3 linked regions of the Homo sapiens genome follow. The protein of the gene in region 1 purifies or fractionates together with the protein of each later gene. This does not show direct contact. Each region holds a gene or a part of one and is shown on either strand. Other genes may lie near its edges. The genes, in order: MOCOS, PSAT1 and SEPTIN8.

Region 1 (3,650 bases):
CATTTATAATACACAAAAGTGGAAACAATCCAAATATTCCTCAGTAGATGAATGGATAAAATGTGGTATATTCATACAATGGAATACTATTCTGCCATAACAGGAATGAAGTTCTGATACATGCTAAAATGTGGACGTACCTTGAAAACATTATGCTAAATTAAAGAAGTCAGACACTAAAGGCCACATATTGTATGGTTCCTTTTACATGAAATGTTCAGAACAGGCAAATCTAGAGAAGCAGAAAGTAGATTAGTGGTTATCAAGGGCTGGGGTTGGAGGCATTGGGGAGTGATTGGTAATGATATGGGATTTCTTTTGGGAATGAATGAAAATATTCTAAAATTGGTATTTATGTAATTTTATGAATATGTTAAAAACCACTGAATTGTATACTTTAAGAGAGTGAATTTTATGTTATATCTCAATAAAGCTGTGATAAAACAACCCATTCTACACAAAACAAAATATTTGATAAGTGAATGAATGGATCTCTTCACATTATATGTACTTGAAAGTGTATCTCAGAGTTTGTTTCATGTCAGTACTTATTATTAGTGTACAATGTTTATTTTAAAAGCGCATTGATGGATATTTAAGTTGTTTCCAATCTTTTGCTATTGCAGGCAATAGTTCGTCGAATAGCCTTATATTCAGGTCATTCCACAAAAGTGTGGGTATTTGTAAGATGAATTCCTGCAAGTGGAATTGCTAGGTCAAAGGGTGTGTACATTTTAAAGCATGAACTGATGTTGCCAAATTGCTGAGCATAAAGGTGTACCTGTGTACCCTCCTACCAGCCGTGTACCAGTGAGCTTGTTTCGCCACAGCTTCATTCACACAGTGAGGAATCCAACCACTGATCTCTGCCAATCTGATCAGTAATCCGCGGTATCTCATTTTCATCTAAATTTGCATTTCTCTCAGAGAGAGGTTGGATGGATCATTTGCATTCCTTGTATTCTTGGAAGCTCTGCAGCTGCATTAGTGTTGAGGGGTGCAGAGCAGTGTGGGAAAGTAGGATCAGGGCTCTCCCCTCAGGGACTCCTCCCAGAACCTCCAGAATAGGTTGTGAGTGACAATGTGAAACAGCTTTGCCATCATTCATCACGAATGTCTGCTGGGCGTCTTCTCTGTGTGGGATGCTGTTCCAGGTTCACAAAAGAGTGAAGAGAGCTGATTAATCAGGAGGGCTCTCTCAGTGCTTTAAAAGTCCTTCAGCATTAGAAGTGCAGTCCTTCCACTGCTCATGCCTACACTTGGATTAAGAGGCACATATCAAGAGGCACAAGTCAGTGGCCTGATGTTACGTCTGCATGCATTAGATGACATTGGTTGGGCTTACACAAACCAGATTCAGGTAAAATTTTAGTATTTATTTTGTGTTTTCTTTCAGGAACTGTCTATCTTGACCATGCAGGTGCCACCTTGTTCTCCCAGAGCCAGCTCGAAAGCTTCACTAGTGATCTCATGGAAAACACTTATGGTAAAGAAAAACACCTGAAACAGGTTTTAGTCAACTACATGCAGCTGATATACCTGTGCATGTTAAACGCTGGATTAATAGGCCAGGAATATTCTGACCACAAAAAGCTGAATAAGCCCCATGTAAGATAGGGGCCAGGCAAGCACCCTGGGTCATTCTGTACTGTAAACATGTGGCCGGGATGGAGGGAGCTGGCTCAGGGACAGACACACAGGTTACTACCAGAAGAAGAGGCCAGTGTTAGGAAGGGCACAGAGATTCAAAGGTGCTGTATTTGGTGGTGGTGAGTGACCCTGTATAGTGCAGAGAGTGGGGCAGCAGGAGGGATGTTAATTCAGTCATTCACTCTATAACTGTTCATTGAGCCACTATGATGTGTGGGGGACAGTGCTATAATGGGAACAAAATAAACATATCCCTTTCTTCTTGGACACTGTGATCTAGTCCTGGAAGACAAGACCTTAAGTGAACTCCAAATAGATGTGATTACCAACTGTGTGAAGGACTATGGACAAAAGGTGCCTGGTTCCAGGCCAGCCTGTATCTGCAGTGACAGTGGGGTTGGCTTGTGCATGTCTAGGGAAAGCTTCCTTTGGAGTGGAGTGGATGCTGGAGGATGAGCCAGAATTCACTCAGACAAGAGGGGGAGAAGTGCGAGCAGGCAGGGTAACAGCCTGAGCCAAGATCCCATAGTGGTTTCAGGAACCAGTCCAGGAACACGGAAGGGAGAAGAGTGGGAGAGGTCTGAATGGGGAGGGAGGGAGAAGAAGCCAGTGCAGGGCATTGTAGATGCTTGATCTTTGTTCTAGGAGCAATGGCATTGTCATCAGTGGCATTTATTTGCAGCACAACATGATCTCACATACTTTGGAAAGGGAACTTGAAATCATAGTGGCAGTAGCAATTGTAATATTTGTGATGAGAATAACGATAAGTAACATTTATCAGGTACTCGCTATGAGCTTTCTCTCTTCAGCCTCACAACAACCCAAGAGGCATAGGTTCTGGTATCACTCCTGTTTTATAGGTGAAGAAATGGGGCCCCAGAGAGGGCAAGTAACTAGCCTGAGGCTGCACAGGAAGGACTGGAGCTTGGAGGAGCTAGAAGCTGTGTTTGCAGGCAGTTTAGCTCCAGAGCCCAAGCCCTTAGCCTCCACCAGAGTGCCTCGATTCAGGATACTTCTGTTATGCCACATTAAGGGGTTTGGATTTTGGCTCTGGGCAGCCAGCAGATATTTAAATCTGGGGAACAGTCTTCTGGGAAGGTGCCAAGGAGGGATTTATCCTGATTTTAATCTGCAGTTTGCAAAGGTTCTTGTAATTCTCCTTCTTTAACCTTTGCAAGAGCCATAACCGTGGGAAAGCCTGAGAGATGGCAGAGTTGAGATTGCAGGTGGTGGTAATGATGCAGCGCTAAAGCCAAGCAGAGGAAAGGCAATGAGGATAATTACCAGGTCCCACAGGTTACTAGCAATGTGGAAACAGAACATATGGTAGCTGCAGTGGCCAGAAATCCAGTGCAATCTTTCAGTGTATTTTGGAGGAAAAAAAAAGTCTAAAACTAAAGGGCAAATTCTGCGTTAATGAGCACATGTAGCTCCTGAGAAATGCTGGTGCCTGGTCTTATAGGTCAGGCCCTACCAAAGCCTGTCTGGGGGTTAAGTTTGAGGGAGGTCATGATACTCTGGGACACATTTGGTGAGGACACCAGGAAGGGAGCAAAACTAGAAGTTAAGAGGAAGAGTGACATTGGGAGGAGGGCCTTCCTCCTTGAAAGTGGATGGCTAAGGGCAGCACAGTGGCCCCCTTCACATATTTGGAGGCCGGGATCAATTATTTCTGCAGGAAAGGCATCAGCAGTGGTGGTGGGATCTGCAGGGCAATACGTGGGGACTTAGATTAAGTGGCGTTCATGGCTCTGCTTCATGCTTGGAGAAAAGGGCATCCTCCTGAGGCTGTATACTGCATTCTCTGGAGTTAAACAGAGCCACAGCCACCTGTCTGGAACATGTAGAACAGACTCTTGCACTGGCCTGCTTCTGAGCTGACTTCCAGCTCTAAAATACTCTTCCCGATCACATTTGGTTTTACTAGTGAGGAGAGATTTTTTTTTTTAACTATATCATAAAATTTACCAGCTGGGTACAGTGTCTCAGGCCTATAA
Region 2 (3,650 bases), on another chromosome or scaffold:
TTCTTAGCAGCTGGGAAGACTGATAACCCAAGACAGAGTTCCAGGTTCACATTATTCAGATGCAGGGCAGTTAACAAGGCCAAGAATTAGATGGAAAGAAACCAGGCCGAGGTCTAGGTACAGGTATACAAGGTGGGAACCAGGTTAGGAGAAGAAAAGATAGGCCCTTAAATTGAACTGGGACCCCAGTCAGAGGAAGTTCATAGCCATGTGGTCAAATGTCATCTCTCCCAGGCTGATGTTCCAAATACCCACTCCATGAAGGACAGGATTGTCCTATGAATGTGACATGATACTCAGCAGGCCAATGGACGAGAGAAGCCAAGCAGATGGCTACCAGCTCTGAACATTCACATTGCAATTAGCGTCTACAGCTCCTCACAGAAATATCACCAAGCCTGCCCCATCTGAATCATTTTATCAAGCAATTTGAAAAAGAAAACTTGAAATAATCAGTATAATTCCAATTTTGTTAATGTAATAATGCAAGAATGGGTCCTAACATATTAGTGATTATCCCTGATTAGTGGGGTTAAAGTTAATTTCAGTTTAGTTGTGAGCTACAGTGTTTTTCCTACCATAAATGTGCATTATTTCTGTGAGCAGGAAAAAAAATGGTATGCTTTCAAACTTGCTATATTCGTAGGTTTATGTGAACATGTTTATATAATATATAAAAATCTCTCCTTTAAATAGCAATCTATTTAAGAATAAGGGATTCTCTGGATAGGAAAGGCAGTACAGATAACCCAGGAGATTTCGTCTAAGCAGTAGTTCCTACAGTTCAGAACTCTTACAATTACCCAAAGAGCCTGTTAAAAATAAAGTCTCTCCAGAGATTCTGATTCAGCAGGACTAAGTGGTGCCCACCACTTGATTTTTTTTTTTTTTTTTTTTTTTTTTTTGAGACGGAGTCTCGCTTTGTCACCTAAGCTGGAATGCAGTGGCACGGTCTCGGCTCACTGCAAACTCCGCCTCCCTGGTTCAAGCGATTCTCCTGCCTCAGCCTCCCGAATAGCTGGGAATACAGGTATGCGCCACCATGCCCAGCTAATTTTTTCTTTTTTTGTATTTTTAGTAGATGGGGTTTCACCGTGGTAGCCAGCATGGTCTTGATCTCCTGATCTCACGATCCACCCGCCTCGGCCTCCCAAAGTGCTGGGATTACAGGCATGAGCCACCTTGCCCGGCCCCACTTGAATTTTTTAATATTCCCCCTAACCAGGTGACTCTGACAGATCGTATGAGACTCAAACTTCGAGAACACCTGAACTAGTTTATAGTCAATTATGCTGACAAAGATGACCATTTCTGTGTCATTTACATCTCTTTCACACCAGTTTAACTGCCACAGTGCTGAAAAATCATTCCTAGATACAATGATTTCAAATCTTTGGAAATATCACATAAAATAAAAACAAAAACATATAAACACGGGATGGGGAACAAATAAAAAGCGTTAGGTACTAATAGTGAATTGGAGAGAATCTTACAAGGATTATTTTAAATTATGAAATATTCTGAACAAACAATAGAGTGTAGAAAATACTGGAAGACATCCAGATTTAGGAAGTATCTAACAAAAGTAACATGATTTGGTCTTTTTAAAACTTACAGCAATTCCCGCACAAGATTCTCTGTATTGTTAATAATCTTGGCAAAATCTGATGACCTGTGACTCATTTCTGTGAAAGGAAAGATAAACAACAATAACAAATATTCCAGCTCAAAACCAAATGAACAGAAATACCTACGAAATTTGCAAGTAAACAACAATACAGGGAAATTTCAGTTATTCTGCATTCAAATTGTGGGCCAAGGCTCACTTAGTTTAGGGGACCATACAAACTGATTTTCAAATTGCAAACATTTTAGCTTTATAGTCATGGCAGAAGGATTTTTCAAGTGGTACATTCACTGAGCAAGTTATTTATTAATTCATCACTCCGTGATGCTCTCTGTGATTCTTCTTACCATCTCTTTCTCACAAACAGGAATCCATGTGCAACAGTTGCCCTTTAGGTCTGGAGCACAAAATTCCATGCTGTGATCTCACTTCACAGAAATCTAAGTATATGTCCCAAACCAACAGGAGCAAAATTTAACAGAAATAAGCAATATAGTTAACCCTATGGTCTCTTAATACCATGCAGTCTTCAGAACCGCCAAAAATAAAAGAAAATAAGTTTTAGAATGCAGAGGTCCTCTTCCCAAAAAATATAGGGGAAACTTAATAAGATTATCAATGTGCGAGGTCTTCATAAAAGGCTTATGTACTTTTAAACTTTAATGAGGTTGTATTTAAGTATAATAAAAACTGTAAATTGAATGTAAAGCAATATTATAAATGTTTGGAGGCACTGTTATGCAAATATACAGTATCTTCTGATCCTAAATCCTATGATTAGCAAAAACCAATTATGACAGGGTAAGCTGAGATGTCAGAACCTCTCACCAGCATTTATGCTATTTTCAAAATGGTTTCTATCAGACATGCAACCCAAGCTATTAAAGTTTAAAAATGTATCTATAAAGGCCTATAGGAAGACCCTATAGGCCCTGTAATTCTATATTTGATGCATTTAAATTAGTTCCCTTTGGGCCAGGGCTCAGTGGCTCAAGCCTGTAATCCCAAAACTTTGGGAGGCCAATGTGGGAGGATGGCTTCAGGCCACGAGTTTCAGATCAGCCTGGGCAACAAAGTGAGATCCCATCTCATGGGATCTTTAAAAAATGTTTTAAACATTTAAAAAAAATTAGCCAGGTGTGGTGATGTGTACCTATAGTCCTAGCTACTCAGGATGCTGAGGCAGGAGGGTCACTTGAGCCCAGGAGTTGGAGGCTGCAGTGAACTATGATCACGCCACTGTACTCCAGCCTGGGTGACAGAGCAGGACCCTGCCTCTAAAAAAAAAAAAAAAAAAAAAAGCTTCCTTTGAAACATGGACATTCACAGAATTCAAAAGTAAATCTTACCAAGAACACTAATGCCAACTCCTTTGTAGTCTAATAATTCCTTTTGTATCTCTAACAACACCTAGAAAAAAATAAAGGAAAATAGGGTTATTTAAATATGTTCTGCACTGCTTTCCCTCTGAACATACAAACCTGACGAGGGGACAAGGAAGGGTCTACAGTGAGGTCCCCAGGCTTCCATCCCCACCCACAGCCAGTCTCCTTCCTTCCCATGTCCACAAAGCCAGCGATTATGCAACTTACACACAAGGTAAGCATGAAATTAGGCAATGTGACTGATGTTGATACACTTTTTCCAAAGGCCCGAATTTACCGATTCCCTAGAAAATGTCCCCTTCACAAATCTCATTCACCACTCTCCTAAAGCTAAAGTAAAGAATGCATAAAGTTCTGGGTTAAAGGGACAACGATAAAAAAATTATGCCCAGATTATACAGGTAACTCAATTTTCCGATCTCTTTTGGTCTAAGGTGCTAGACTGGGAAGCGTGGGGTGGGCAGGAAGAAGGAAGAGCCTGCTGTGAATAAGATTCGTCCCAGGGTGCTGCAACAAGACTGGCACAATGTTGATAATTGTTGAGTCTCAGAGATGGGTCCTTGGAGGTTCATTACACTACTTTTATCTTTGTGTATGTGAGGATTCCCTTAATAAAAAATAAAGAGAAAAAGAAAAGC
Region 3 (3,650 bases), on another chromosome or scaffold:
GTCTCCAGGAGGCCAGTGTTGGCTGGCGCGAGTGCCCGCAGTTCTCCATCACCACCTGCCAGCCAATACGGGCTCCACACCACTGCCCCACAGACTGAGGAGGGATGCGCCACAGGTGTCCAAGCAGAAACCACCACGGCTTTTGGAATCTGGCTGGAGATGCTGACATTCCCAGGTCCTGTCCCGCCCCTGGCCTGAAAGACCATTCCCAGCATTCCCAGAGCCCTGCAGCTTCGCCCTCTCCACGCTGCTCCTCACCCGTGCAGCCCCACCTTCACCACGCTGCAACAGGGCCACAGCTGCCAAGGGGGCTATGGGAGAGCGAATGGGTGAGCAAGAAAGTTGGAGGAAGAGGAAGAAGGGGGAAGAGAAGGAGAGAAAAAGGGAGAAGGGAGAGGGAGGGGGAGCACAAGATTGCCTGTGCAAGTGAGACTGCATGAGTATCAGAGCAATCCAGACGGCGAGACACTGGATCACTAGTGAAAGAAAAAGGCAACCAAGAAAGCTGGGGGGAGAGCCACTGAAGATGAGGGAAAACCAAACAGGAAAGGGGTAAGAGAGGGCGAGCAGGAGAGCGAGAAGGGAGGTGAGGGACAAGAACGAAAGCAAGAGCCCACAGGAGCAAGAGGAGCCAGCGCAGGCGCAGCCTGCCACCTACTTCTTCTTGTCCTTGTCCTTCCTCAGGGGCTGCTGCGAGGTGGCGTGCAAGGCCTGCGACTGCAGGGCCTCCACCGCAGCCTTCCGGCGATTGAAGGCGTTGGTCTCCTCCTCCAGTTCCCGGCGCTTTTCCTCCACCTTGCGCTTCTCCTCCTGGTGGACCCGCTTCAGGTGCTCAAACTTCTCATGGAGCTGGCATCAGAAAGGGGGCAGAAGATGCGGGGAGCAAGAGGAGGGCTTGAGCCTGGGCCAGGAAGGCACCCCCACCTCTACCCTCAGCCAGGCCTTCCCTCCCTCAGCTTCCCCATCCCAGCCCCCAGCCTGGCACATACCTCCCTTTCCTTCTCCTTCAGCTCCAGCTCTGTCTCCTTCACTTTGTTGACAAACATCTGCCTCATCTCTTCCTCCTTCCTCTGCAGCTCACTTAGGAACTCCTTCCTCTTGGCCTCGTATGTCTCTTGTAGGCTGTGGAGACCCAGAGAAAAGAGGCCAAGGATGGGATTATGACGGAATGGGATAGGGCAGGGCAGAGCCAGAGAAGTAGAATCATGTGGGCACGAGGGGTAAGAGGATGTGGGGTCCCTCAGGGAACAGATGCCAGGGTGGTGTGTCTGGCCACAGCTGTGAAGACAGGCTCACTCTGGCTCAGGCTGTCACCTGAAGGGCTGGCTGTCACCATCGCTGTCCTGAAAGCCCATCTCCTCCAACTTGCAGCGCCGGTAGAGCTCGTAGTGCCGGCTGTGGGTCTGCTCGCGGAGGTCTTCCATGTTCACCCGGATCAACATCTCCCGCAGCTTCACGAAGTCGCAGTGATTCTCATTCTCCACTGAAAGCAGAGGGCCGGTGGGGTATCAGGCAGGCATGCAGGCGGGCACACTCCAGAGTCAGGGTAGGCACGCAGGTGGGCATGAGGAGGAAACAGCACAGGGTACTACAGGCAGCAGGGCAGGCCAGGGAACTCAGTTCTACCCCCAGGATGCATTTCCTGTCCACACTCACCCTGCACCACTCCCCAGGGGTACTGCCGTGCTCGGACCAGCTTGTTCCCCACCTTCACCTCCTCGGTGCTGCCCACCACGGCAAAGGGCAGATGTGCCTGGAAAGGGGCCCGGGTATGCGTAAGCCCTGAGCTGACACAGACTAATGGCAGACTCTCCCTCCCTGCCCCTGGGTCCTAGGGAGGGGCAGCCAGACCTGAACAAAGGCTCCAGGGCCAGATGCTTACTTCCTGGCTCTCTTCTGGAGAAATGTCCCAGAACTCCAAACAGGGGAGTGGGCTGAACCCTCAACCCCCTCCCTGGTGCTCCTGATTCTCCAGGCTGTTCTTTCAGCACTCGGGCCTCCCAGGGGCCATTAGAGCTTCCTGAAAGGACCTGTGAGCCTGGCTCCCTTCCAGGTTCCCAAACCCTTAAGCCTGCTCAACTGCTTCCATTTCCAGGCTCCTCCATGAGTCCAGATCTTATGACACCCAAACCTGGGGTCCCCAGTGTAGGCCCACTATCAGATTCTTCCTGTCCCCTGCCCACAGATGTAGGACTGGCCAGCTCCAGATGCCCACCCTTCTGTCCTGGAGAAGCTAAGGCTGGAATCCTGGGGAACAAGAGTCTCCTGGGGCTGTGTCAGATCTGTGCCGGCTCCTCGCCCTCTGGCCCCAGGGCCCTGAGGCCCTCACCCAACGCTCACATTCATGACTGCGTTAATCTCTGCAACAGCCTCATCATCCGTGGGGAACTGGTAGATCTGGACCCCGTTGCTGACCAACTCGCCCATGATCTTGATCTTGAACTTGTGGAGCTCGCTCTTGGAGATGGTGTCAGCCTTGGCGATGATGGGAATAATGTTCACCTGCCAGGATCAGGGGAGGGGACAGCAGGCTGGTTGGCTCTTTTGAGCGGTGGTTCCCATGCCATGCCCAGGATATGGATAGACATGCCCAGGCCATATCCCTGGGCAGGGGGAAGGAGGCCAGAGAGATGGAGCCACTCCCACGGGCAGCCATAGTGCAAACCCAGCCACCTGTGGCCATTCTGATGAGTTTCAACAATTGGCTGCAGTGCTTCTTACAGCCCTGGTTCCCCCAAATCACCATCCAGCCCCAAAACTGGTCCCCCTAGGCATACCCAGCTTTGACCCAGAATCCTTTGAAGGTCCTAATTGGCCTGGGGCCTAACAGAAGGAGTGGTGGGGGGGCTATGCTCCCCACTAAGCAGGTAAAAGGACCCATCAGCAGTAGCCATAAGAAGATCCCAAAATCTCCCAGGCCCAGGCTATCCCGTTTTTTACAATAAAAATGAACTCCTGAGATGGGAGGGCAGTCACGTGAGAGCTGACAAGGGATGTGGGGTCACATGCCCTTCAAGATGCACAGCACTTCCAGTCCTTCCCATGAAGCTGCCTCCCTTCTCTACCCCTACAGTACCCACCCCTCATTCACATCCCATTTCTGGGCCTTAACTCTCCTCTCCCTGATGGGCTCAGAAGGAACCAAAGGACATTTATGTCAGGGAGGAAGGGGGAAGTGAAAGGAGGAGCTAGAAATTAGGAATTGAGAGATAGAAAATGAGCAGAGAAGAGGCTGAGATGGGAAGGGAGGTTCCCTGGAGCGAAGGGGAACAAACACTATCGGGAGCGGGAGGGGCTGACAATGAGAATGATTCAGCTGCAAGCAAGGGGCTCAGGGTCAGACCCAGGGCACAGGACTCTGGAGAATGAGCCCAGAGCATTGGGGGCCACTGGAGCAGGAGGAACAGACGCAAGACAGAGAGAGGACCGAGCCAATGGGGGGCCACCCACAAGCCCCCGACCAGGTCCCTGAGGACCATGGTGTTCAGGCATGAGGCAGCCACCACATCGCATCGCAGCAGAAGACTATGGAGCCTGTGACAGCAGGTGGGGACAGGGATACCTTGCTGTCTAGTTTCTTCATGGTCACTAGATCTAGAGACTTCAGGGAGTGCCCTGTGGGCGTGATGAAGTAGAGGCAAACGTGGATC

Evidence for each region.
Region 2: the proteins of MOCOS (region 1) and PSAT1 fractionate together in Homo sapiens (co-fractionation; one large-scale study listed by BioGRID). This does not show direct contact.
Region 3: the proteins of MOCOS (region 1) and SEPTIN8 fractionate together in Homo sapiens (co-fractionation; one large-scale study listed by BioGRID). This does not show direct contact.

What each region holds. Positions count from the first base shown.
Region 1 is NC_000018.10:36,193,861-36,197,510, forward strand, and holds part of MOCOS (molybdenum cofactor sulfurase), read left to right. Parts: exon of another isoform or gene 1-447; intron 448-1,396; coding exon 1,397-1,486; intron 1,487-3,650. UniProt on the Homo sapiens protein: Sulfurates the molybdenum cofactor. Sulfation of molybdenum is essential for xanthine dehydrogenase (XDH) and aldehyde oxidase (ADO) enzymes in which molybdenum cofactor is liganded by 1 oxygen and 1 sulfur atom in active form.
Region 2 is NC_000009.12:78,299,989-78,303,638, reverse strand, and holds part of PSAT1 (phosphoserine aminotransferase), read right to left. Parts: intron 3,038-3,650; coding exon 2,977-3,037; intron 1,686-2,976; coding exon 1,616-1,685; intron 1-1,615. UniProt on the Homo sapiens protein: Involved in L-serine biosynthesis via the phosphorylated pathway, a three-step pathway converting the glycolytic intermediate 3-phospho-D-glycerate into L-serine.
Region 3 is NC_000005.10:132,760,144-132,763,793, forward strand, and holds part of SEPTIN8 (septin-8), read right to left. Parts: coding exon 3,563-3,650; intron 2,503-3,562; coding exon 2,341-2,502; intron 1,754-2,340; coding exon 1,657-1,753; intron 1,484-1,656; coding exon 1,315-1,483; intron 1,123-1,314; coding exon 990-1,122; intron 850-989; coding exon 659-849; exon of another isoform or gene 1-658. UniProt on the Homo sapiens protein: Filament-forming cytoskeletal GTPase. May play a role in platelet secretion. Seems to participate in the process of SNARE complex formation in synaptic vesicles.